7 linked regions of the Homo sapiens genome follow. The protein of the gene in region 1 purifies or fractionates together with the protein of each later gene. This does not show direct contact. Each region holds a gene or a part of one and is shown in the gene's direction. Other genes may lie near its edges. The genes, in order: LYRM2, BCKDHA, ECH1, IVD, OXSM, MRPL13 and ALDH1L1.

Region 1 (4,075 bases):
TCATCATAAACGGACCCAAGTCATGAACAATTCACAAAAACAGTATAACTAAAAATGGCGAGGGGTATTTAACTTCACTCCTTTTAAAAAGTTAGCAATTAACTATTACAGCTAATGTATTAGACAAAATTTGGCATATATTATTGATAATATGATCATGCAGTTAGCATCATTCATACAATGCCTGGTAAAGTTCAAAAGAGCTAATGATTAGAGTTCTTACATGTGCCAGGACCTGTTCTCAGTACATTAGAGATACACAACTGAGGTAGATGCTATATTTCACTTTACAGGGGAGGTAATAGGCCAGGAGAGGGGAAATAGCCAGAACACAGCTAGGAATAGGGAGCCCCAGGATGCTAACAGGCGAGGCAAGCAAGTCCCCAGTAAACTAGTAATTGAACATTTTTCGTTCTATTTTAATTCGATACAACACCACTTGGAAAATTAATATGGCAAAGATTCGCTAACTCCACTTCTAGTGATTTAACCCAAAGGCATGTGTATTGTGGGAAAGATAAAACAACTATAAGGAAATAAAAGCAAAAGCCTGAGGCTTAGGGATGTTAGGCTCCTCGTTATTAGTGATGAAAAGTGCTTAAGACTGAAGTGGGTGAGCCATTCAAAGCTTTGTTTCAAATGATCATGAAGGCCACCGCTCCCGGAAAACCTTTGCGCTACAAAAGAACAGGACAAAAACGAGAAAGAGAAAAAACCAACACAAACTGTAAAAGAAATTAACACTTTCAATTTTAGTATTTTCAACTATACACATTTTTAAAGGCTCGAAAGAACATTTAAATACGTTTTCACCTCTTTCCCCCAAAAAAACCTTAACTTTTTTTTCGAGACAGGGTCTCGCTCTGTCGCCCAGGATGGAGTGCAGTGGTGCGATCTCGGATCACTGCAACCTTCACTTCTCGGGTTCAAGCGATTCTCCTGCCTCAGCATCCCGAGGAGCTGGGATTACAGGCACCTTACAGGCCTCCCAGAGTGCTTGGGACTGCAGGTGAGAGCCACCGCGCCCGGCCTCCTTCACTTTCATTTGAACTCTCTTTACCAGGAACTGTGTTAAGTGCCCTACCTTTCTTCTTTATCAAAACGACCCTATGGTGCACTGTTATCCTATTTTACCGACGAGAAAACTTCGGCCAGCGCAGCAGCTAGGGCTCAGTCCCGAAGCCTCGCGCTCTCAGTCCGAGAGCAACCCGCGGGCCGTCTCCTAGGAAACCGGGCTCGCCACACCCCTTGGTCGAACCCCACTTCCGCTCCTGCGCGCTGAGGCTCCGGCGGACCTCTGGTGGACATGGCTGCTTCCCGCTTACCCCCAGCGACGCTAACGTTAAAGCAGGTACCGGCGGTTCTCTGCCTTCCAAAGCAGCTTACCTGGGTCTGAGCTGGATTCTCCATCTGTCCCTATCCCCAACGGGGCGGGTTCCGGGGTCCTGATGCGGCGTGCGCGCCCTCTGAGATTGGCCCGATGCCTGCGGGGCGGTGCTTCGCTCCGCGGGGCCTGACGGGAGGCACTGGCTGCTTCCTTGGTTTGGTGCGATCGCGTGAGACAGCGTCAGGCGCTTGATTTCCCTGAGTCCCGGTGCCTCAGCTGCCCAGTGCCCACGGTAAAAGTCTATTGCACTGAGCTGTGGCAAACAGCAAATGAGATTACCAAAGATTTGAACAACTGTTAATTTAGAAAAAGTGCTGTCGTTGTAATAACAACTTCTAGGAGACCGGCAGCCCTTTTCAGCCCGGTAGGCAGCTCCTGATTTTTTAATGGTTCTTAGGTTTGACAGAGCAGTAAGCAAAAAGATCAGATGAACCTCGTGATGCTTTCTTTAAAACATCTTTTTGAGACAGGGCCTCACTCTCGCCCAGGCTGAGTGCAGTAGCGCAATGAAGGCTTACCTCAGCTTAGACCTCCTGGGCTCAAGTGATCCTCCCATCTTGGCCTCCCAAAGTGCTGGGATTACAGGCCTGAGCCACTGCATCTGGCCAAAAAAAGAAAAAAAAAAGTTTTTCTTTGCCTTTTTCAAAATTGACCAACGAGAAGTACTCTGGTTACAGCTTGGTTTGCTGAAGTAGAACTTTCCAGGCTGGCGATTGTGCAGTAGTAATTGCTATTTACTCCTCCCTTTTACAGTTCGTAAGAAGGCAACAAGTTCTTCTCCTCTACAGAAGGATTTTGCAAACAATTCGGCAAGTTCCAAATGATTCTGATCGCAAATACCTGAAAGATTGGGCAAGAGAAGAATTCAGAAGAAACAAAAGTGCCACCGAAGAGGTGAGAACAAAATCATGGTGAGGACAGATCCTAACCCTTTTTATTGATCAGTGAATTTTTTTTTTTAAGTTTAGCAGACATCTTGGAATATAGTGCCACTGAGCTGGTATATCTTGATCATTGCTTGTAATGTTACCGATTTTAAATTATTATTTTAAAATTTAGTATTTTAAAATATGTAGATAAAAGAGTATCTACACTCTTCAGCATCATCACTTGACTTTTATGTTGTACATTTTATATGTATGTATGTGGAACTCTTTTAGCTTTTCTAAAAGGCAGCAGTTCCAATAGGTAGTATTGGTTCTTGATTTTAACAGATAAAATGGTATAGCTATACCTTGTTTAACCAGGTAAAACTATAACCAGATTTCACTTTATTCTACAGGATACAATCCGGATGATGATTACTCAAGGCAATATGCAGCTCAAGGAGTTAGAAAAAACACTTGCTTTAGCAAAATCTTAACTATAGCATTATTCTGAAGGATTTTCAAAGTCTCCATGTGTTTTGTTGCATTTAGGATTAACAATGGACAACACAAAGCCCAGTCTTACTATTTATATGTACAGTATTTGGTGATAGAGAGCAAAGGAAAAACACATCAGAACAGTTGCCTTAACACTGAAAAACATACCCTGCATTTTGAAAATGTTTATGGATGTCTCAGCAGTTCTTAAAAGAAGAAAAAAACCACTAACAAATGGCCAGTAGATGCTGGACACAATCATTAGGGAAGTGTAAATCAAAACTACTATGAGGTCGGGTGTAGTGGCTCATGCTTGTAATCCCAGTACTTTAGGAGGCTGTGGTAGGTGGATCACTTGAGGTCAGGAGTTCAAGACCAGCCTGGCCAGCATGGTGAAACCTCATCTCTACTAAAAATACAAAAATTAGCTTGGTGTGGTGGTGCATTGCCTGTAGTCCCAGCTACTTGGGAGGCTGAGGCAGGAGAATCACTTGAACCCAGGAAGTGGAGGTTGCAGTGAGCTGAGGTCGTGCCACTGCACTTCAGCCTGGGTGACAGAGTGAGACAGTCTCTAAAAAAAAAAAAAAAAAACAACCCTGAGATTCACATTCACTAGAATGGCTGTAATTAAAAAGAGAAATAATAATAAGTCTTGGTGAAGATGTACAGAAATTACAGAACCCTCATACATTGCTGGTGGGAATGTAAAATGGTGTAGCCACTTCAGAAAACAGACGGTCAGTTCCTCAAAAGATGAAACAGCTGCTGTATGAGTTAGCACTTCTACCCCATGCCCATAGCCATTATTTGGCACTAAAAAGAAACGAAGGACTTATATATACTAAACATGGATAAACCTTGAAAACGTTAAGTGAAAGAAGCCGGTCACAAAAGATCACATGATGATTCCATTCATACGAAATGTCCAGAATAGGCAGAAAGATTAGTGGTTGCCTAGGCTGGCTGTAGATGGAATGGAGTAACTGCTAATGGGTGTAGGGTTCCTTTTCAGGGTGATGAAAATATCCTACAGTTAGCTTGTGGTGTAGGCTGCACAACTCTTGAATATATTCAAATCCACTGAACTGTACATTTTAAATGTAAGGTATGAATTGTATCTCAATAAAGCTGTTATTAAAAAACTCTTGAGGTGTAGGACTGAAAGTATACTGACACCAGGAGATACCCTGGAACTTTCTCGAAAAATCCTGCATTATCCCTGAGGGTTGTTCAGGTACGTTCTTCAGATGTGTCATAGTTTGATAGAGAACTCATCAAAAAGATCACCACTGGGAATCTAGATCTTTGTTGAAAAGGGAAGAGA
Region 2 (3,500 bases), on another chromosome or scaffold:
GTGGGTCCCCAGTGCTTCCTGGAGTGCTCCAGGGGACCGCCCTAGGCCCATGTGAAATGGGCTGTGATCCCCTGATAAATCCTAGTATCAGGGACAAGGATCCAGTCAAGCCAGTGTCAACAAAGAGGGAAGTTATTGACTCCAATGACCATACATCCAGAGGGTCCTGTTTTGGGGCACAGCTAGATCCAGGGGGTCTTCCAGGCAGGAAGTAGAGGGAAGGCGGAAGGCCAGACATGGCACATCCCAGCTATCCCACACCCCCACCTTTATAGAGCTTTCTGGGTAGTCCCACCTAGTGACATCTGCATACATTTCCTGGGCCACTCCTAGCTGCAGGGGAGACTGAGAAATGTATTAATAATACTTTAGTCCCGGCAGTTGCTGCCTGCGGGAGATTGAGACCTCTGTTAACAGAGGAGGGGAATAGTATACTGGGAAGGCAACCAGGAGCCTCTGCCAGTAGCCCCGAGTCCTGATCCTCAGGGGGCTGGTTGCAGGCTCTTACCCACGCTAACCTGGACAGTCCTGCCAGGCCCTCAGTACTCAGCACCGCCCACTCACTTGGCACTGGAATGTGCATTAACTTTTAATTGGCTCCCCACTTAGAAGAAAGCACACATTCATCAGTTTCCCCCACAGCAACGGGAAAGCCAGGCCTGGGAACACATGGAGGAGGGCACCGCCGAGCCGCGAGGAGCTCTGGCCCCGGGGTGTCCCTCAGGGTGCTGGCCAGGCTGCCTTTGTTCCGCTTTACACATGGCCCTGTGTGATCTCATGTCCATCCGTATGCCAGGGCTGCCCAGAGCCCCAGCCAGACTGCTTGTCAGAGCCCTGCTTGGCTTCTCGCCCTGGATGTCCCACAGCAAACTAATCCTGTCTGAACTTGACCTCGACATCTTCCTCCCAGGCGTGCTCCTTTGCCTCACCTAGTCCGTTTCTCAGTGAAGAGCACCACCATCCACCTGCTTGCCCACACCAGAAACCTCATCTCATCCCTGTCTCCTCCCTCCCCCTTGCTATCCCTTTCTCCCCTCTCATTCCCTCTGTCTGTAGATATTTCTTTTTTTTTTTTTTTTTTACTTTTGAGATGGAGTTTTGCTCTTGTTGCCCAGGCTGGAGTGCAATGGCACGATCTTGGCTCACCGCCTCCCTGGTTCAAGCGATTCTCCTGCCTCAGCCTCCCGAGTAGCTGGGATTACAGGCATGCGCCACCACACCTGGCTAATTTTGTATTTTTAGTAGAGATGGGGTTTCTCCATGTTGGTCAGTCTGGTCTCGAACTCCCTACCTCAGGTGATCTGCCTGCCTTGGCCTCCCAAAATGGTAGGATTATAGGTGTGAGCCACTGCACCCAGCTGTAGCTACTTCTTTTCTTTTATGTTATTTTTATTTATTTATTTAGAGACGGAGTCCACCTCTGTCGCCCAGGCTGGAGTGCAGTGGCGCAATCTCGGCTCACTGCAACCTCCGCCTCCCAGGTTCAAGTGATTCTCCTGCCTTAGCCCCCCAAGTAGCTGGGATTACAGGCGCCCACCACCACACTCGGCTAATTTTTGTATTTTTAGTAGAGATGGGGTTTCACCACATTGGCCAGGCTAGTCTGGAACTCCTGACCTCAAGTGATCCGCCTGCCTTGGCCTCCCAAAGTACCGGGATTACAGGTGTGAGCCACCGTGCCTAGCCTGTCTGTAGATACATCTTTAGGAAGTGCTCAGCTGCTCAGCAGCACACTCTGAGACCCAGCCCCATCCTTTCTCTGCTTCACTGTTGTTGGTGAGTTGACCTTCGTGCTCTGCTTGTGGCCTCGTGTTCACAGCATGGCTGCTGCATGTCCAAGCTTCATGGCTGTCTGCAAGGCAGGAAGAAGTAGGGAGTGGGTAGGGCTGGCACCAGCAGCAGTGGTCTCTTCTATCCAGAAAGCAAAAGCAGACTTCCACCAAAATATCTGGCTAAAACTGTGTCCCATGGCCACCTCTGGCTGCAAGGGAGGCCAGGGACCTGAGTGCGTGTCTTTTTGAGGCTCAGGTTAGGGGATTTGGGAGAAGGGAACTGGGCACTGGTGTGGCCAGCTGACAGGGTCTGCTGCCCCCTAGCACAGCCGACTCAGCTTCCTCAGACACATCCACCTGCTCCTCTCCCGCCTCCCTCTGCTACCAAGCTGGGCCTCTGCCCCCTCTCTCCTGGCTTGCTGCAATCAGCCTTGATGACTCCATCCATTTACCTCACTGCAGCCTGAGAGCAATTCTAAAACACAGGTCTGACCACATTGCTCCCTTGAGAAGACTGTCGGCAGGTTACCACTATTCTCAGAGTAAAATCAATGTATCGTTCCCTTTGTTATCTGGGTGCCATCTCCTCTCCCTCCTCATCTTTCCCCACCCCTACCACTGTATGTCCCAGCCCTTCTGGCCTCATGGTCTATCATTCCCTCTGCCTGGAACCCTCCACCCACCCCATCTTTGCGCACTGGTCCTCACCGATGCCCTTCCGTGGTGGAACAGGTGCTTCCTTTGGGCTTCTATCACAGCAACTCGATCCCTCTGGCAGTTCTAAGCAGTCTGGCAGCGTCTTCTTAAAGGCAGGAACCCCAGCATGGCCTGGCCCAGGACTGGCCTTCAGGAGGACTGTGAATTCATGGAGGTGTTGGAAGCTGGGCAGGATTTGGATGGCTCTCTGTCATTGCCCAGCATAACCAATTGTGGGACCCCGGTCCCCTCTACACCCCCAGGGCCGGATCTCCTTCTACATGACCAACTATGGTGAGGAGGGCACGCACGTGGGGAGTGCCGCCGCCCTGGACAACACGGACCTGGTGTTTGGCCAGTACCGGGAGGCAGGTACGTCTGTCCGTGGTTTGGCCCTGTGGTCCCCATTGAAGTGTACACTTTAGTTTTTCTGAGTGTTCTTCCAGGAGCAGCATAGTGCCAGGAAGGTCTAAGGAGCTGGAAGAAGAGCTTTCCAAGCAAGAAAGAGACAAGCCAGGGTTAGGACTCTGGAGGGGGCAGTCTTCCCACTCTGAAGGCCAGAAAGTGTAGTGGCTCAGGGTCTGTGCTCTTAACCCTTTGTTACCAGTTGTCAGGTTTTGGGCAAGTCACTTCCCTTCTCTGAGCCTCAGTTTTCTAATCTCCAGAAGAGGGATTATGACGGTACCTGCATCCAAGGGTCGCTGGGAGGATGCAGTGAAGTCAACGTTCGCTGTGGGTGTGGCCTGTGCAGGAGACCCTGTCTGCCTGGTGCAGTGATCCCCTGGCCCCTCCTCAGGTGCTGTATCCTTCGGGGAGCAGGAGCAGGTGGAAGAACCTTGACAGACCTGAGTGCGGTGCAAGATTAGAGGGGCCCGGCAAGCCCAGATGAGTGAAAGGAAGGAAGGGTCAAAGACCAGGAATGAAGAAAATCATTGAGCAGGAATGAGTGCCTGGGAGCGAAGGAGTGAGCCCAGGGAGCAGTGAGTGGGGTCTTCCAGGGAGCTTGTTGGTGTGGGGCCCTGCATGGGGACT
Region 3 (3,500 bases), on another chromosome or scaffold:
GTCAACAGATGTTTACGACTCCAGTCCCCATGATCTAAGTCAAGGTCCCAGTGGGGATCCATACTGGGGATGGCTTGCTGACCGATAGGGAATTTGTCCCTTTCTTCAGGTGTCATTCTATCATTTACTTGATTAAGATTCCAGGTATCTCCAAACTCTCAGGCTGCAGCTAAAGCTGCATTCTTTTCATTAAAGGCCAGGGTTTGATCTAACAGTAGCATGACATCTCTCCAAGCGAGGTCGAAAGTTTGCCCTAGACCCTGTAGGGCATGTATGTACCTATCAGGATCATCTGAAAACTTCCCCAGGTCTGCCTTGATCTGCTTTAAATCAGAGATGGAGAAGGGGACATGTACCCGGGTGGGACCAAATTCCCCTCCCCCTACAGCTTGAAGGGGACATAACCAATAGCCAGGAGGGTTTTGTGGTCCTTTGGAGATTTCTTTGCATATTTCCTTCTGGGCAGGGGAGATTAGAGGAAGATTATCATTAATAGGAATGGGAGCTATAGGGAGGCTAGGATATGGTGGTAAGCTGAGAGGTCCTCCTGTGGGATGTAAATTGTAAGCTTTGCATAGTTGTGTATTCTCCCTCCATGAAAAGAAAGCTTGGACATAAGGTATTTCACTCCATTTGCCTTCCCTCTTACAGAAAAGGTCAAGCTGCAGGATAGTATTGTAATTTGTACTTCCCTCAGGTGGCCATTTTTCCCCATCAGAGAGAGAATACTGGGGCCAGGCCATAGTGCAGAAAAAAAATGAGCCTCCTCTTTTTCAGGGTTTATGGGTCAAATTGGTCCCAACGGCTTAGGATGCATTTCAAGGGTGAGCCTGTTGATGGCTGAATGTTTCCCATCTGAAAGACAAAACCACCCGCGGTTTTGGTTTGTTTTGTTTCTCCCCCTGCCCAAGAAACTGCAACAGTCCCTGTACCCTGCTGATCGGAATAGTTGTGCTCATCAACGCAGCAGCAGAAACACTAGTTTTCCTCTCAGACCACATGGAGGACCAAGGAAGGTCGGATTTAGTGGCCCTTACCGACGCATTCTTGAAAACCTGTTAGAGTTCTAAGCATTCTCCTGTTAGTATTGGGACTTTACCCCTGTCCTATAAAGATGTTATGCCCCAAAAATGAAGTGGAGGGCCATACCCTGAGGGAGGGAAGGGATCTCCAGGGTTGGAAGAGTGACACCTTTTGTCCTCACTTATATGAATAGGAAAGCTACAATTTCTGAGGCTCCCCATATCCTAGCTTCAGGAATACCTTTGTTAGGCCTGTTAGTCTGAGGAGGGATCGTAAAATTCCAGGTAGTCGCCACTATGACAGGGCTTTGGGCAAAAATTATGTCTTTCTGATTGGTGAGCCTGGGTGCCTAAAGAATGTAACAGAGTTCTAGAAGTCGTTCTTATAGGAGAAACTAGAAAAGCACCAGAGACAGCAAATTTTAGAAGCAGGACTAAACTCGGAGAAGAGAGGTGAGAGGAAGTTTGTCTGGCAGGCATTAGGACCCGGGGGCAAGAGTCAGGATAGATAGGATAGATGGGCGAGTCTCGCTTGGGCGACATGCCTTTGAGTGTTCCGCTCATGGCTGCAGGGTCAACGAACTTGTTGTCTTGTCGGGACCCTAGAGCTGCATGGCTTTCCTCTCTGTCGACCCTCGGCTCAGCCCAGAAGTACAGGAAAAGCAGAAGCTGGTTCTAGGCAAACCAACGCTCCCAACTCCAAAGAGTCGGGAGTTGTTAGAGAGCCCTTTCCCAGAAAGCCTGACACCCATGTCTTTAGTCCAGCGGCCATGCTAGTCACTTTTAACTGGCAGACAGGTGCCTGGTATTTAGCCCCCAAATTCTAAGGAAAAATAGGACAGAATAGCAAGTGAAAGGGGTCCAGTGGTACTCACTGCTTGGCGATAGGTGATAGTCTCACCGCTCAGCGATAGGCAGTGGTCTCACCGCTTGGCGATAGGTAATAGTCCCATCTGGGTCACCAAAATGTATCCGGAATTGGTGGGTTCTTGGTCTCACTGACTTCAAGAATGAAGCCGCAGAATCTCGTGGTGAGTGTTACAGTTCTTAAAGGCGGCATGTCCGCAGTTTGTTCCTTCTGATGTGTTCGGAGTTTGTTCCTTCTGATGTTTGGGTGTGTTCAGAGTTTCTTCCTTCTGGTGGGTTCGTGGTCTCGCTGGCTTCAGGAATGAAGCTGCAGACCTTCGCAGTGAGTGTTATAGCTCTTAAGGCGGTGCGTCCAGAGTGGTTCGTTCCTCCCGTCCGGAGTTGTTCATTCCTCCCAGTGGGTTCGTGGTCTTGCTGGCCTCTGGAGAGAAGTTGCAGACCTTCGCGGTGAGTGTTATGGCTCATAAAGGCAGTGTGGACCCAAAGAGTGAGCAGCAGCAAGATTTATTGCAAAGAGCAAAAGAACAGAGCTTCCATAGCATGGAAGGGGACGTGAGTGGGTTGCCACTGCTGGCTCGGACAGCCTGCTTTTATTCCCTTATCTGTCCCCACCCACATCCTGCTGGTTGGTCCGTTTTACAGAGAGCTGATTGGTCTGTTTTACAGAGAGCTGATTGGTCCATTTTGACAGGGTGCTGACTGGTGCGTTTACAATCCCTGAGCTAGACACAAAACTTCTCCAAGTCCCCACTAGATTAGCTAGACACAGAGCACTGATTGGTGCATTTACAAACCTTGAGCTAGACACAGGGTGCTGATTGGTGTATTTACAAACCTTGAGCTAGACACACAGTGCTGATTGGTGTATTTACAATCCCTTAGCTAGACATAAAGATTCTCCAAGTCCCCACCAGATTAGCTAGATACAGAGTGCTGATTGGTGCATTTACAAACCTTGAGCTAGACATAGGGTGCTGATTGGTGCATTTACAAACCTTGAGCTAGACACAGAGTGCTGATTGGTTGTTTACAATCCCTTAGCTAGACATAAAGAGTCTCCAAGTCCCCACCAGATTAGCTAGATACAGAGTGCTGATTGGTGCATTTACAAACCTTGAGCTAGACACAGGGTGCTGATTGGTGCATTTACAAACCTTGAGCTAGACACAGAGTGCTGATTGGTTGTTTACAATCCCTTAGCTAGACATAAAGTTTCTCCAAGTCCCCACCAGATGAGCTAGACACAGAGCATTGATTGGTGCATTTACAAACCTTGAGCTAGACACAGGGTGCTGATTGGTGCATTTACAAACCTTGAGCTAGAAACAGAGTGCTGATTGGTGTATTTACAATCCCTTAGCTAGACATAAACGTTCTCCAAGTCCCCACCAGATTAGCTAGATACAGAGTGCTGATTGGTGCATTTACAGTCCCTCAGCTAGACATAAATGTTCTCCAAATCCCCACTAGACTCAGGAGCTCAGCTGGCTTCACCCAGTGGATCCTGCACCAGGGCCGCAGGCGGAGCACTCCTCAGCCCTTGGGCAGTTGATGGGACCAGGCGCCGCCGAGCAGGGGGTGGCGCTCCTCGGGGAGGCTCGGGCTGTGCAG
Region 4 (3,007 bases), on another chromosome or scaffold:
TTCAACTTTCAGTCTCTTTTCTGGGGGAAAAAAATAATAAACCTAGCCTAGCCAGGCGTGGTGGCTCATGCTTGTAATCCCAGCACTTCAGGAGGCTGAGATGGGTGGATCACCTGAGGTCAGGAGTTCAAGACCAGCCTGGCCAACATGTGGAAACCTCGCCTCAACTAAAAATAGAAAAAAATTAGTTGGGCATGGTGGTGGGCACCTGTAATCCCAGCTACTTCAGGAGGCTGAGGCAGGAGAATTACTTGAACCCAGGAGGCGGACGTTGCAGTGAGCCGAGCTTGTGCCATTGCACTCCAGCCTGGGCGACAAGAGCAAAACTCTTCAAAAAACAAAACAAAACAAAAAAACCCTGGCCCTTGTTTCTTCCAGTTTCTAGAGGTATCAGCTCCTAGCAGCTTATGAACACATATGCTTGCTTGGCCAGGCAAGGTGGTGTGTGCCTGTAATCCCAGCACTTTGGGAGGCCAAGGCAGGTGGATCACTTGCAGTCAGGAGTTCAAGACCAGCCTGTCCAACGTGGTGAAACCCCATCTCTACTAAAAATACAAAAATTAGCCAGGGGTGGTGGTGCACGTCTGTAATCCCAGCTACTCAGGAGGCTGAGGCAGGAGAATCACTTGAACCCGGGAGGTGGAGGTTGCAATGAGCCAATATGACACCGCTGCAGTCCAGCCTGGGCCATAGAGTGAGACTCTGTCTCAAAAAAGGAAAGAAAAATAGGCTGGGCACAGTGACTCATGCCTGTAATCCCAACACTTTGGGAGGCCGAGGCAGGTGGATCACGAGGTCAGGAGTTCAAGACCAGCCTGGCCAAGATGGTAAAACCTCGTCTCTACTAAAAATACAAAAATTAGCCAGGTGTGGTGGCAGGCTCCTGTAATCCCAGCTACTCAGGAGGCTGAGGCAGAGAATTGCTTGAACCCGGGAGGCAGAGTTTGCAGTGAGCCAAGATCACACCACTGCACTCCAGCTTGGACGACAGAGCGAGACTCTGTCTCAAAAAATAATAGGCCAGGCATGGTGGCTCAACGTCTGTAATCCCAGCACTTTGGGAGGCCGAGGCGGGCAGATCACAAGGTCAGGAGTTCGAGACCAGCCTGACGACCAACATGGTGAAACCTCGTCTCTACTAAAAATACAAAAATTAGCCAGGCCTGGTGGCACGCGCCTGTAATCCCAGTTACACAGAAGACTGAGGCAGGAGAATCGCTTGAACGCAGGAGGCAGAGGTTGCAGGAGCTGAGATCGCGCCATTGCACTCCAGCCTGGGCAACAGAGTGAGACTCTGTCTCAAAAAATAATAATAAAATAAATGAACACACATGCTGCTGAGTCCGCAGGGGGGGCAGAGCAGAGGACAGCGTGCTTTTGTGTACTGTTGGAAGACTGGCTCCTCCTGTACAGCACCTCTGAGCCCTTGTGCACCGCCCTGCCACGGGCACCATCCAGTCCTGGCCGTGTGACCACCCACAGCTGACTGGGCAGCAGGCACAGGCCCTACCCGAGCAGGCCGGAGTTGGCTCGCATGACTCCAGCTGAGGCTGCCTGTGTACATTTCTCCAGATACCCTATGGCTAATTTTGTTATAACTGCACAGTGGCTGCTGCCATTTTGTATTAAATATATTGTGAAACAAACCTATCTGGGGAGAAGCAATCTACTTGCCGCTGCTTCCTGTCTGGATCCAGCTTGTGTCCTTGGAGAGTGGCTGGCCCAGGTCCTATTCCTGTCCTCCAGCCCGTTCTTTCATGAGGGACAGGAAGGTAAAATCAGCCCTTAGGAGAGAGGTCTCAGCCTCCCTTTCCCAGATCTCCCAGTGAGTTTTAAAGGAAGCAGGGAGCCCAGAGTGCTAAGTTCTTACAGCCAGAAGGAAGCTTATAGATTTCTGAAAACCGCCCCTTTGTTTTTAAAAAGATCAACACAATTTGACTTTCTCAAGGTCAAAACGAACTAGAATCCAGATCTGCTCATGGCAAAAATGGGGGTGTTCTGAGAATTCCAGCTTTGGGCCGCACTGTACAGCAGTCTGGATAGAGTGTGATCTGAGAAGGGAATGGGTCTGGGTTGTTCCACCCCTTCCGAGTTCCAAAAAGAGGGAACTGGTTTTCTTGGTTCTCAGCCCAGCAGCACCTATCCTGGCTCTTGGTCCTGGCCTGCAGCCAAGTGCTGTTCCTAGCCTGAGGCTTGAGACAGGTGGGGTTGGCTCCTCACCAACCCCAGTTCCGTCCCATCCTGAGGGCAAGATCCTGGGCTCATAGGCAGTCCCTTTCACTTCCTTGTCTTGCTCCCTGCTATGTTGGAGATGAATGTGACTAAAAGGGCCATCTTGCTGGCTTAATGTGTGGCTGGAGAGACCAGCCTGGAGACAATGTGGCAAAATGGGGCGCTTCATCCAGTCTGTCTAAGCCCTGTCGACTTGGGGAGGTGATTTCTTTCCTGGTTCTATATGTGAAGCAAAATAAATGTTTTAAAATTAAAAGCAAAAAAAACAAAATGAACCATGCAGCCTGAGTGGTAAATGGAAGAACAAGGGGCACGTCTACTTTGGTTCTTGTGGGCGTGTTTGGTTGCCTACATGCATTGGGCAAATCTGCAGCACCAGCTGCCAGCACTGCTCCTTCCTGCGGCTGGCTCTTACTCCACTCCAATTTTAGGCAGGTCACACTATCAGGGCAGCTCGCTGCTGTTGATGCTGCCTGCCCTGTGGGAGGGCAACAGAACCTTGGGATGTTTTTTAAGCGTGGTCTGAGCACACCCCTTATCAAAATTTGGCAACCTAGAATAAATGCAGGTTCCTGGATCCTGCCCCAGACCTAATCACATCCCCAAGGGTGAGTCTGCAAGGCAATCTTCTACAACCACCATCTGAGTCCTAAAGCAGGCTTCCCCAGGAGCCTAAGTCCTAATTCTAAATCCATATAATCTAGTGATAACAATCCCTTGCCCATGTAACCCTCTCAAGTCTGAGATCCTTGATCTTTGCACAACCGAGTGCAGG
Region 5 (3,958 bases), on another chromosome or scaffold:
TGTAGGGGTAGGAAAGAATGCAGAGCACTCTACTTGGAAACAATGGCTTCAAGAGGCATTGCCCAGAAAAAACCATAAATATGACTAGAAGGTCCAGATGAAGATTCTATGCTCAACCATTTTTCTAAAGAAGAGCAAGGACAAAACTCACGCCTGGGATAGCATGTGAAAAACAGATGTTCGATGAATACCATCTTGTCGACTTCTTGCTTTTTTACATTTTCATGTTATATTTTCCCTTTATCGGTTTGCAGTCAGCTCTAAGCAAACAGTTAATGAATTTTTCACACTTAGAAACAAATGTCTCCATTGTGACAATGGAGACAATTTTTGAGCACTGTCTCAAATCTGGTGATAATTTTTTTTTAAGTGAAAGGAAGTTTATTAGGAAAGTAAAGGAACAAAGAATGACTACTCCATAGGCAGAACAGCCTGGTGACAACTTTTAAAAAGTAAAAACTTTATTACAAAAACATTTGTTTATTGTAGAAAAGCTTTATTAAATAAAGCTAAGCAAAAATAAGGAGGGAAAGATCACAATCAGTATACATCTTGCAGACCTTTAAAGAATTATTTTTGAAAAAACGGATATATACTGTTTTGTAACTATGTCTCCTAACAAATAGTCGCAACATCTCATTAATAAATATTCACCTGCAGAATTATTTTAAACGGCTGCATGGCATTTGGATGTACCACAAGATACACAACAAATTTCCTGATGTTGGCCATTTTGGTTAATTCCACTTTACTCACAATTACTAATAACGTTGCGAGCTATAGCAATAACTTTGAAACTGCAGAGAATTTCCTTAATTCTTTCTTACAATTCCAGTAGAATACGATGGTGTCCCTTCTCCGACAAAAGGGAATATTTGGGCATTATCACTGCCAAAGAAAAATGCCTTTTTGATGGGTGAAAATGCTACCTCATCGCGTTATTGGCAGGTCCTCGATTATCGGCGAGTCACTGAGGTTCCGAGAGGGGCGTCTCTGCTCACGCAAACAGCTACCCAGCCGCCTCCCACGGTCTGACCTCAGCCAAGGTGACGCGGCTTAAAGTCAACCGGCGGAAAGAGAGTCGAACGGGACGCGTGCGTGGGAAAGCGCATGAGCGTACGTGCGAGCGCGCATGAGCGTACGTGCGTGTGCGCGTGCGCTCGAGAGCGTCATCGCCCCCGACTGTGGAGAAGTGTCCGGGGTAGCCCCGTTACAGGTATCGCTGGCTACCCTCCTCCTTCGCCCCTCCTTTCCTCCTTTACATTCAAATCAAGTCGGGGTTGAATTTCGAGAGGGGAGTCCGAGGACCTGGGGCCTGATTTCTTTTTCTCTCGCCATGCTTCTTCGGGCTGTGTACATGTGTGGTGGTGCCTGAGAGGCGATACAGGGAATGGCTACACTCTTTTACTCCCGCCCCTGGCCTTCGTAGTACCCTTGAAGTGATCCACTAGTCGTAACCCCTCCTTCCACCAATGATTCAATTGGAGAAGTTTAGAGGAGTGGAAAGACTTGTCCCCTTCCCCCATCGCAAGCTTGGTCACAGAGTGTATTGCCAACCCATGTATCCAGACGCTCAGTCTAGGGCTCTTGGCCCTGGGTAGCGTTTTGAAAAGGCTGGTTATCCTTAAGTACTGAAGATTGATAAAGCCCACTTACTTACTTAAAAGAATATGCCCTGAAATGTGTTTTCTGTGCCACTGACACCAGAAATGCTATTTAGAAGAAGTTATCAGTAATCCTGACAAAGGATGCTTCCTGCAGCTCAAATCAGGCTGGAGGTGCCTTTATATTTTTCATTGAATTACTGTTTTGGTGACTCGAATGAATCATCAATTCATTTATTTGTCTTCAAATGTCTGACGGCACTTAAGGTCTAAAAAAGAAGGTAAGTTTAAACAGATAGTTTGATGTTAAGGTATAAATTGAAAGTATGTAACATTTTCCCTGTGTTCATTAGCAGCTCATATCAAGCACCCAAAGGAACACCTTGGATGTTTTTCCTTAGGCCCTTAAGCTATTTAAAAGAATACCTCCTAGGTGTGTTGTGGTCTTTTACAGGAATGTGTTTCTGATCATCTGAATCTTAATCATGTCCAACTGCCTGCAAAATTTCCTGAAAATTACAAGCACTCGTCTTCTATGTTCAAGATTATGCCAACAGTTAAGAAGTAAAAGGAAGTTTTTCGGAACTGTGCCAATATCCAGATTGCATAGGCGAGTTGTCATTACAGGCATTGGCTTAGTGACTCCTCTTGGTGTTGGAACTCACCTGGTTTGGGATCGTCTTATCGGAGGAGAGAGTGGAATTGTTTCACTGGTTGGTGAAGAGTATAAGAGTATCCCTTGCAGTGTTGCTGCTTATGTGCCAAGAGGTAGTGATGAAGGTCAGTTCAATGAACAAAACTTTGTGTCCAAATCAGATATCAAGTCCATGTCTTCTCCCACCATCATGGCCATTGGGGCTGCAGAATTAGCCATGAAGGATTCTGGCTGGCATCCTCAGTCAGAAGCTGATCAAGTGGCTACTGGTGTTGCAATTGGCATGGGAATGATTCCTCTTGAAGTTGTTTCTGAAACTGCTTTGAATTTTCAGACAAAAGGTTACAATAAAGTTAGCCCATTTTTTGTCCCTAAGATTCTGGTCAATATGGCAGCAGGCCAGGTCAGCATTCGATATAAACTCAAGGGCCCAAATCATGCAGTATCCACAGCCTGTACCACAGGAGCTCATGCTGTGGGAGACTCATTTAGATTTATAGCCCATGGTGATGCTGATGTGATGGTGGCTGGAGGTACAGATTCTTGTATTAGCCCTTTATCTCTTGCTGGGTTTTCCAGAGCCCGGGCTCTGAGCACAAACTCAGATCCCAAGTTGGCATGTCGACCATTTCATCCAAAGAGAGATGGTTTTGTAATGGGAGAAGGTGCAGCTGTGCTGGTGCTGGAAGAATATGAACATGCTGTTCAAAGAAGAGCCCGGATCTATGCAGAAGTTTTGGGCTATGGACTCTCAGGTGATGCTGGTCACATAACTGCCCCTGATCCTGAAGGAGAAGGTGCCTTAAGGTAAAGATGGGTTATTTCCTTCGAAATATTTCTTCAAATAAGACACTTTATTGGGAATCCCAAATTAGGGAAGTTGTAGTGTCTGGCCTTGGTGTACAGTATCTCTGTTGTTTTTCTTTTTTAGACTAAACAAGATTGTTTAGTTCTTTGCTTAAGACATTTGAAGTATTTCAAAGCATTTGAACATACTTACAAAAATTGCATTTGAGTTAAAAACCAATGGAGTTGTGGAAAAGACCATGTGTGTCTTTGCCAACTTTTCACGCCTGCATTTGTGCTTAAGCATCAGTGTGCTCCCTCACAAAGTCCTCCTCTTTGACCCTTCATCAGACTTGGAAAGTAAAGTCAACCCTTCTAGATGTGTCTGGTTTTGCTCCATTTCAACAGGATTCTGTTCTTTTCAAATCAGCACTTCTCAAACTATAATCACCTAGGGATCTTATTTAAAATGCTAATTCTGATTCTGTAGGTCTAGGGTGGTGCTTGAGATTCTGTTTTGTTTTGTTTTTTTAGAGACAGGGTCTCTCTGTATTGCCCATGCTGGTCTTATCTCACTGCAGTCTCTAACTCCTGGGCTCAAGCAATCCTCTCACCTCAGCTTCCTGAGTAGCTGGGACTACAGGAATGCGCCACTGAGACCAGTTTTCTTTTTTTTGAATTTGTTTGTAGAGATGGGGTTTCACTTTATTTCCCAGGCTGAGAGATTCTGTAGTTCTAACAGGTGATGGTGATACTGCTGGTTTAAGGACTACATTTAAGTTAACTGTTATAGATTAGTGCATTTAAAATGCAAAAAAATAAAAATAAAAAGTCCCTGATAATGTGTTAATAGATAGCTAATAGTTTAGCTTTCTTAAATCATATTATGTTTTACTCAGTTAAATTAGCCAGA
Region 6 (3,500 bases), on another chromosome or scaffold:
TTTATTTGATGTAATTTTAGTAAATAAAATTACGTGTTAGTGAATAAAATTACGCTACCTTCATATGGCTAGTGTCTACATTATTGGACTATGCTATTTTAGTTATTGGACTATGCCATTTTATAAAGTTCTATTAAATATTATATACTTTAGAATTAGAATTAAAATATTTGATATGCCATGCAGTTCAATTCATGGAACATGAGGTTTTTATTATTAAAGGATTGCCTTTATTAGAAAAAAATTTTTTTCTCCTTTTGGAGAGGACCTTGCTTAAGATATGCTTTTGTTCTACCCAACATAGCTAAGCCAAGAATATAATTTTCCTTTGGAATGTAGTAACTGGAATTTGTTTAAGATAAATCTGATGGTGAATCTGCAGAGACTTGACTGAAACAAATGTACCTGCATTGCGCCACAAGTATATAGCCACAAAAATAGCTTGCTCTGGTGTTTGCTGCCCTAGTAATAAAACTTAAAATATGTTCATAATATTAGAATGTACATCTTATAATTTGAACTATTATTAATATTTGGTTAAATATAAGTTTATTAACTTTTCTATTAGAGACTAAAAGCTTCTGAGCAGCAGAAACAATTATCAAAGAGCTTTGAACCCAGTAGATGATTAACAAAATTGCTTTAATCTTAATTAAAAGCTAGCATTGTTGGGATTTTATTTAAATTATTTTAAATCATCTTCAAAGATTATATTCTTTCAGGCCTAGTTTCAGCATACATTAGGTTTTCTTTTGCTAGTTGTTGTTCAGTCATTAGTTATTGTCATTTTTAAGCTATGGTAGGAGATAAGGAATGAAATTGATATTTATGACAAAACTATACTTTTTTAAAACTAAAAGCCATTTTATATATACTATGGGTACTATTGCCCATTCATCTCACTTCTTAAGTTAGTGGATATTCTTGGTGTATTAGTATATTTTACATAAATCATGGATACATAAATTTTGTGAAAATATGTTAGGAAGTTTATTTTATATTTCTTGACTGTACAAAGCAGATATGTATTTGCAATGTGCAAATGGTGACTGTGGGGTTTATACTTAGATTTTTTTTCTTTTTTCTTTAAAGGAAAAAAATAGCACTATCTTTTCTTCACAATTCTGTTGCTTAAGATTGTAGCTTTAAAATGGTCAATTTATTTTAATACTATCAATTGTTACATGATTATTGCAGTTTTGCCAACACATTTCACAACCCCAATAATCATGGAAATTAATCATGCTCATTGTAAGGGAAATGTTTCAAAATGTAGTCTACAAATAAAACTTGGATCATTTTAAACTTTATTTTCAAGTTTTGCAAAATGATGCAGGAGAGCTTTTCCTAAGGAAAACTACGTATGTGAAAAAATTCAACTTGAATTGCTTTGCATTATTTTTCCTTACATGTTAATTCAGTAAGAAATGCTTGTTTTAAGCAAAACTCTCACCTTTGTAGAGAAGCTAACCATGGAAAGCTTCAGCATCAATACATGCTTGAACACAGGTTTTTATAACAGAAACCTGTGTTCCTGGTGTTTCAGTACTCTAGAGTGTGCTATTAGAAATGTGCCTGCAAAGGAGAGATGGATGGTAAGGATGAAGACAAGGAAGTATGAGGACAACCATTACTGATGCAGAACTGTCTCTTCGAAAGTAGGATGAGGATTAGGGAGTTCAATATGTGATCCATTCAGCTCTGTAAAAGAAAAGCTGGATTCCAGATGCTGGGAACATTAGCACTGCATTGGTGAGCATCCTCTTCAGTCTATAGCTCTAGAAGAGAGCACGGATTTAAGCTTAGTGCATATTCTCTGATATGAAAGCTGTTAATCCTAAAAACTACCCATTTTCAGATTTACTTAATACTCAGAAAAAGATTATTTTTACCTATGCCTTTATAAAACATGCTTCAGATCAGAGACTTAAAGACAATGTAGAAGGATTTTTACCTTTTCTAATCCATAAGTTGCTGGGATCTGGACAGCTTTAAGATTTTCCATAATTTTCTTCTAGTCTAGTCATGTGGCATTTTCTCCACACAATTTAACTTAATTTGCTGCTCTTCACAGTCAGCAGTTACTAGCTGGACTTGTGGACTAAGGTTACTTTCCAACTTTCCTACCTATTTCAACCAGTTCAGCATTGACTTCAATGATAGACTTCAGTCTTTCCAGTCCTGGGTTTTGCTCAAATTAGGCATTCTAAGCTGTACTGTTCTTTTGGATGTGAATAGATCAGGACTGGCTAGTAAAATAAAAAAGTAGTCTCTATTTAAACAACAAAACCCAAATCATTTATAAGTCCTAGCTGATACAGATTTTGACTAAAAAAGTGCAGTTGAATGTAATGGCAATTTCTGTTCATTTTAATTGAAAAAATCATTTGGCAAAAATTTTCAACAATCTTACAGGTTTAGTTTATTTAAAAGTATGTTGATCTGTAGGTCTGGATCTGAAAGGGAAGAAACAAAAAAGAATAATCAAGAAAGGATTTAAAAAAACATTTTATTTAAATGTATGTTGAGCTTTTTCGGATCAGGATGGTGCTACAGTGCCTAGGAAAATTAGTATTAAGGCACCATTACTTTACCTCTCAGTATAGCTAGCATCTTTAAAGAATATGTGATGTCACCAGATTTCCTGAAATGGTTTATTCTAAATAATTTCATTCATTCAATGGAAGTGACTTAAAACTCAAACTGACCTTTTATCGCTTTTAAGATTAGTTCACCATCCAAATATTATTTTAGTCTTTTAAATGTTTCATAGAATAAGCATTATACTAAGAAATATTATGTAAGAGTGAAAAGACATAAAACCTATTGAAGAAAAAAATTTTTTTGAGATTTATTACACTTAAGCTACACTCAATTTCCTGGACTTACAGCTGAAATAGGGAATTTTTTTACTTGAAAAATAAATTATTCTTAGTAGGACCAATAATGTATTTTTTGTTTTGTTTTGTTTTGTTTTGTTTTGTTTTGTTTTGTTTTGTTTTAGATGGAGTTTTGCTCTTTTTGCCCAGGCTGGGGTGGTGAAATGGCGCGATCTCGGCTCACTGCAACCTCTGCCTCCCGGGTTCAAGCAATTCTCCTGCCTCATCCTCCCAAGTAGCTGGGATTACAGGAGCCCGCCACCACGCCCAGCTAATTTTTTGTATTTTTTGTAGAGACTGGGTTTCACCATGTTGGCCAGGATGGTCTCGATCTCTTGACCTCATGATCTGCCCACCTCGGCCTCCCAAAGTGCTGGGAAGTAGGACCAATAATGTTAAGTGTCACTTATCTTAATGTAGCATAAACCATGTGCTTCATAACTTGATGTTTTGTTTCATTCACAACCAAGTAAATTTTTCCTACCATTTTATAATACAAACTAAAATCTCCGAAAAGTTTTTTCCTAATGTTAAGAGGTGAGAAATTACTCCATTTTCAAGATAATATAAATGTTTTGACTTCTGTCATTTCTGAATTCTGAATTTGAATCTGCTTTTTTG
Region 7 (3,500 bases), on another chromosome or scaffold:
CTCCTGTGCTCTACCCATCCACCCCCCAACCCCCCTACCTATCCCTGGCAACCACTGGTTACTGCCTTTGTAGTTTTGCCTTTTCCAGAATGTCATATAGTATGTATGAATCATATGGTATATAGCCTTTCCAGACTGGCTTCTTTCGCTTAGCAAAATGCATTTAAGCATCCTCCATGTCTTTCTGTGACTTGGTAACCCATTTCTTTTTATCATTGACTAATATTCTGTTGTATGGATGTGGAGGTACCACAGTTTATTTCTCCATTCACATACTACAGGATATCTTGGTTGCTTCCAAGTTTTAGCAGTGAATAAAGCTGCTATCAACATTTGTGTGCAGGTTTTTGTGTGGACATTAGTTTTCTTCTCCTTTGAGTAAATATCAAGAGCGATTGATGGATCACATGGTAAAAGTATGTTTCGTGTTATAAAAAACTACCAAACCTTTTTCCATAGTGGTGGCATAATTTTTCATTTCTACCAGTAATAAATAAGAGTTCCTGTTGCTCCACAGCCTCATCAGCATTTGTTGTCAGTGCTCTTAATTTAACTCTTCTAATACGCATATAGTAGTATCTCATTGTTATATTTTAATTTGCAATCTGTAATGACTTACAGTGTTGAGCATCTTTTTAAATGCTTCTCTGCCATCTGTATATCTTCTTTTGTGAATGTCGGTTAATTTACTTGGCCCATTTTAAAATTGGGTTGTTTGTTTTACTGTTGAGTTTTAATAGTTCTTTGTATATTTTGGATAACAGTGCTTTACCAGATATGTCTTCTCTCCCCAACCATGGCTTGTCTTTTCATTCTCTTAACAGTGTCTTTTGCAGAGCAGAAGTTTTAAATTTTAATAAGGTCTAATGTACCATTTTTTTTCCTCCATGAATTGTGCTGTTGTTGTTGTATCTAAAAAGTCAAATCCAAGTTTTGGCAGTTACAAATAAAGATGCTGTAAACATCAGTGTACAGATATTTGTGTGATTTTTGTGCAATGCAGATTTTCTCCATTGTCTTGCCTTTGTCTCTTTGTCAAAGTTCAGTTGACTGTATTGATGTGAGTTTACTTCTGGGCTCTCTATTCTGTTCAATTGATCTATCTGACTATTCTTTTGCCAATACCGTACTGTCTTGATTACTGTAGCTTTATAGTAAAGTCTTGGGGACAGGCAGTATCGGTCCTCTAACTTCGTTCTCCTTCAATATTGTGTTGACTATCCCAGGTCTTTTGTCTCTCCAAATAAACTTGAGAATCAGTTTGTTGATATCCACAAATAACTGCTGGGGTTTTGATTGGGATTGCATTGAATCTATAGATAAAGTCGGAAAGAACTGACATCTGGACAGTATAGAGTTTCCCTACCCATGAACATGTACTATCTCTTCATTTATTTATACATATTTTTATGTTTTCATCAGTTATGGTTATTCTCACATAGATTTTGACCTATTTTAGGTTTATGTATAAATAATTCACTTTTTGGTGCTAATGTAAATGGTTTTGTGTTTTTAATCTCAAATTTCAATTGTTTATTGCTAGTATATAAGAAAGTAATCAATTTTTGTATATTAACCATGACTTTACATCCAGCAACTTTGGCAGAATAACTTATTATTTCCAGTTTTCTGTTGCTTTGTTGGCATTTTCCACATAGCCAATTATGTTTTTTGAGAACAAGAACAGTTTATTTCTTCCTTCCCAATCTGTAGACTTTTCATTTTCTTTTCTTTTCTAATTACATTAGCCAGCACTTCCAGTATAATGTTGACTAGGAAGGGTGAAAGGGAACATCCTTGCCTTATTTCTGATCTTAGGGGAAAAGCTTCTAGTTTCTCTCCATTAAGTATGATGTTAGCTGTAGGTTTTTCATAGATCTTCTTTATCAAGTTAAGTTCCCATTTATTACTAGCTTGCTGAAAGCTCTTATCATAAATGAATGTTAGATTCTTGTCAAATGCATTTTCTGGATCTATTGATGTGATCATATAATTCTTCCTTAGCCTATTCATGCGATGGATTACATTAATTGATTTTCAAATGTTTAACCTAGAATAAATCCCATGTGGTGGTTATGTATAATTCTTTTTAAACATTGTTGGATTCAATTGCTGATTTTTTTGAGGATTTTAACATCTATGTTTATGAGAAATATTGATCTGTTAGTTTCCTTTCTTGTAATGTTTCTGGTTTTGGTACCAGGGTAATTCTGACCCAAGAAAATTAGAGAATTTCCTCTACTTCTATTTTTTGAAAGAGATCATAGAGAATTGGCATAATTTCTTTCTTAAATGTTTAGTCATATTCATTAACCCTAGTGCTTTCTATTTTGGAAGGCTACTGGCTCCAGTTCTTTAATCAGTATAGGCCTATTCAGATTATCTATTTCTCTTTGTGTGAGTTTTGGAACGTTGTACTTTCAAGGGATTGTTTCATTTCATTTAACTTACCAAATTTGTTGATATAGAGTTGTTCATACTAGTATTTTATTATCCTTTTAATGACCGTAGGATCAGTATTGATGGCCCTTCTTTCATTTTTGATATTAGTAATTTGAGTCTTCTCTCTTTTTCTTCTTAGTTAACCTGGCTAGAGGTGTCTCAGTTTTATTCATCTTTTCAAGGAACCAGCTTTAGGTTTTGTTGATTTTCTCTATTGACAGCATGTTTTCAATTTCACAAGTTCTGCTGTAATTTTTATTATTTCCTTTCTTCTGTTTATTTTGGATTTAATTTGCTCTTCTTTTTCTAGTTTCCTAATTTGGAAACTTGCTTTTAGCTCTTTCTTCTTTAATAATATATGCATTCAGTGCTCTAAATTTCCCTCTAAACACTACTTTAGCAGCATCCCATAAATTTTGATGTTATATTTTCATTTTAATTTAGTTTGAAATATTTTAAATTTTTTCTTGAGAGTTATTCTTTGATTTGTTTACATGTTGTTTAGAAGTGTGTCATTTAGTTTCCATTTTTTTAATGTTTTTCAGATATCTTTCTGTTATTGATTTCTAGTGATTCTGTTGTGATCTCAGTAATCTCCATCATAGAAGTCATTGATATTTGTTGTTGTATGTTTTATGGCACAGAATGTGGTCTGTCTTGATGAATATTCCATGTGAACTTGAGAAGAATGTGTATTCTGTTGTTGTTGGGTGAAGTATTCTCTAAATGCCAATTAGATACACTTAATTGATGGTGCTGTTCAACTATGTCCTTACTGATTTCCAGCCTGCTGGATCTATCAGTTAGTGGGTACTGGCCAGGCACGGTGGCTTACGCCTGTAATACCAGCACTTTGGGAGGCCGAGGTGGGCAGATCACCTGAGGTCAGGAGTGCGAGACCAGCCTGACCAACATGGAGGCTCTACTAAAAATACAAAATTAGCCGGACGTGGTGGTGCATGCCTGTAATCCTAGCTACTCGGGCGGCTGAGGCAGGGGAATTGCTTGAACCCGGGAGGCGGAGGTTGCAGTGAGCCGAGATCGTGCCACTGCACTCC

Evidence for each region.
Region 2: the proteins of LYRM2 (region 1) and BCKDHA purify together in Homo sapiens (co-immunoprecipitation; one large-scale study listed by IntAct). This does not show direct contact.
Region 3: the proteins of LYRM2 (region 1) and ECH1 purify together in Homo sapiens (affinity purification with mass spectrometry, with the first as the bait; one large-scale study listed by BioGRID). This does not show direct contact.
Region 4: the proteins of LYRM2 (region 1) and IVD purify together in Homo sapiens (affinity purification with mass spectrometry; one large-scale study listed by BioGRID and IntAct). This does not show direct contact.
Region 5: the proteins of LYRM2 (region 1) and OXSM purify together in Homo sapiens (affinity purification with mass spectrometry; 2 studies listed by BioGRID and IntAct, with this or other methods). This does not show direct contact.
Region 6: the proteins of LYRM2 (region 1) and MRPL13 purify together in Homo sapiens (affinity purification with mass spectrometry, with the first as the bait; one large-scale study listed by BioGRID). This does not show direct contact.
Region 7: the proteins of LYRM2 (region 1) and ALDH1L1 purify together in Homo sapiens (co-immunoprecipitation; one large-scale study listed by IntAct). This does not show direct contact.

The regions. Positions count from the first base shown.
Region 1 is NC_000006.12:89,635,948-89,640,022, reverse strand, and holds the start of LYRM2 (LYR motif-containing protein 2), read left to right. Parts: upstream 1-1,275; 5' UTR 1,276-1,306; coding exon 1,307-1,351; intron 1,352-1,386; exon of another isoform or gene 1,387-1,491; intron 1,492-1,537; exon of another isoform or gene 1,538-1,751; intron 1,752-2,140; coding exon 2,141-2,281; exon of another isoform or gene 2,282-2,298; intron 2,299-2,669; coding exon 2,670-2,750; 3' UTR 2,751-4,075. UniProt on the Homo sapiens protein: Involved in efficient integration of the N-module into mitochondrial respiratory chain complex I.
Region 2 is NC_000019.10:41,411,318-41,414,817, forward strand, and holds part of BCKDHA (2-oxoisovalerate dehydrogenase subunit alpha, mitochondrial isoform 1 precursor), read left to right. Parts: intron 1-2,731; coding exon 2,732-2,840; intron 2,841-3,500. UniProt on the Homo sapiens protein: Together with BCKDHB forms the heterotetrameric E1 subunit of the mitochondrial branched-chain alpha-ketoacid dehydrogenase (BCKD) complex.
Region 3 is NC_000019.10:38,821,795-38,825,294, reverse strand, and holds part of ECH1 (delta(3,5)-Delta(2,4)-dienoyl-CoA isomerase, mitochondrial precursor), read left to right. Parts: intron 1-1,897; exon of another isoform or gene 1,898-2,455; intron 2,456-3,500. UniProt on the Homo sapiens protein: Isomerization of 3-trans,5-cis-dienoyl-CoA to 2-trans,4-trans-dienoyl-CoA.
Region 4 is NC_000015.10:40,418,802-40,421,808, forward strand, and holds the end of IVD (isovaleryl-CoA dehydrogenase, mitochondrial isoform 1 precursor), read left to right. Parts: 3' UTR 1-378; coding exon of another isoform or gene 379-401; 3' UTR 402-2,507; downstream 2,508-3,007.
Region 5 is NC_000003.12:25,788,932-25,792,889, forward strand, and holds the start of OXSM (3-oxoacyl-[acyl-carrier-protein] synthase, mitochondrial isoform 1 precursor), read left to right. Parts: upstream 1-1,158; 5' UTR 1,159-1,216; exon of another isoform or gene 1,217-1,885; intron 1,886-2,058; 5' UTR 2,059-2,089; coding exon 2,090-3,066; intron 3,067-3,958. UniProt on the Homo sapiens protein: May play a role in the biosynthesis of lipoic acid as well as longer chain fatty acids required for optimal mitochondrial function.
Region 6 is NC_000008.11:120,407,151-120,410,650, reverse strand, and holds part of MRPL13 (large ribosomal subunit protein uL13m), read left to right. Parts: intron 1-3,500.
Region 7 is NC_000003.12:126,174,087-126,177,586, reverse strand, and holds part of ALDH1L1 (cytosolic 10-formyltetrahydrofolate dehydrogenase), read left to right. Parts: intron 1-3,500. UniProt on the Homo sapiens protein: Cytosolic 10-formyltetrahydrofolate dehydrogenase that catalyzes the NADP(+)-dependent conversion of 10-formyltetrahydrofolate to tetrahydrofolate and carbon dioxide.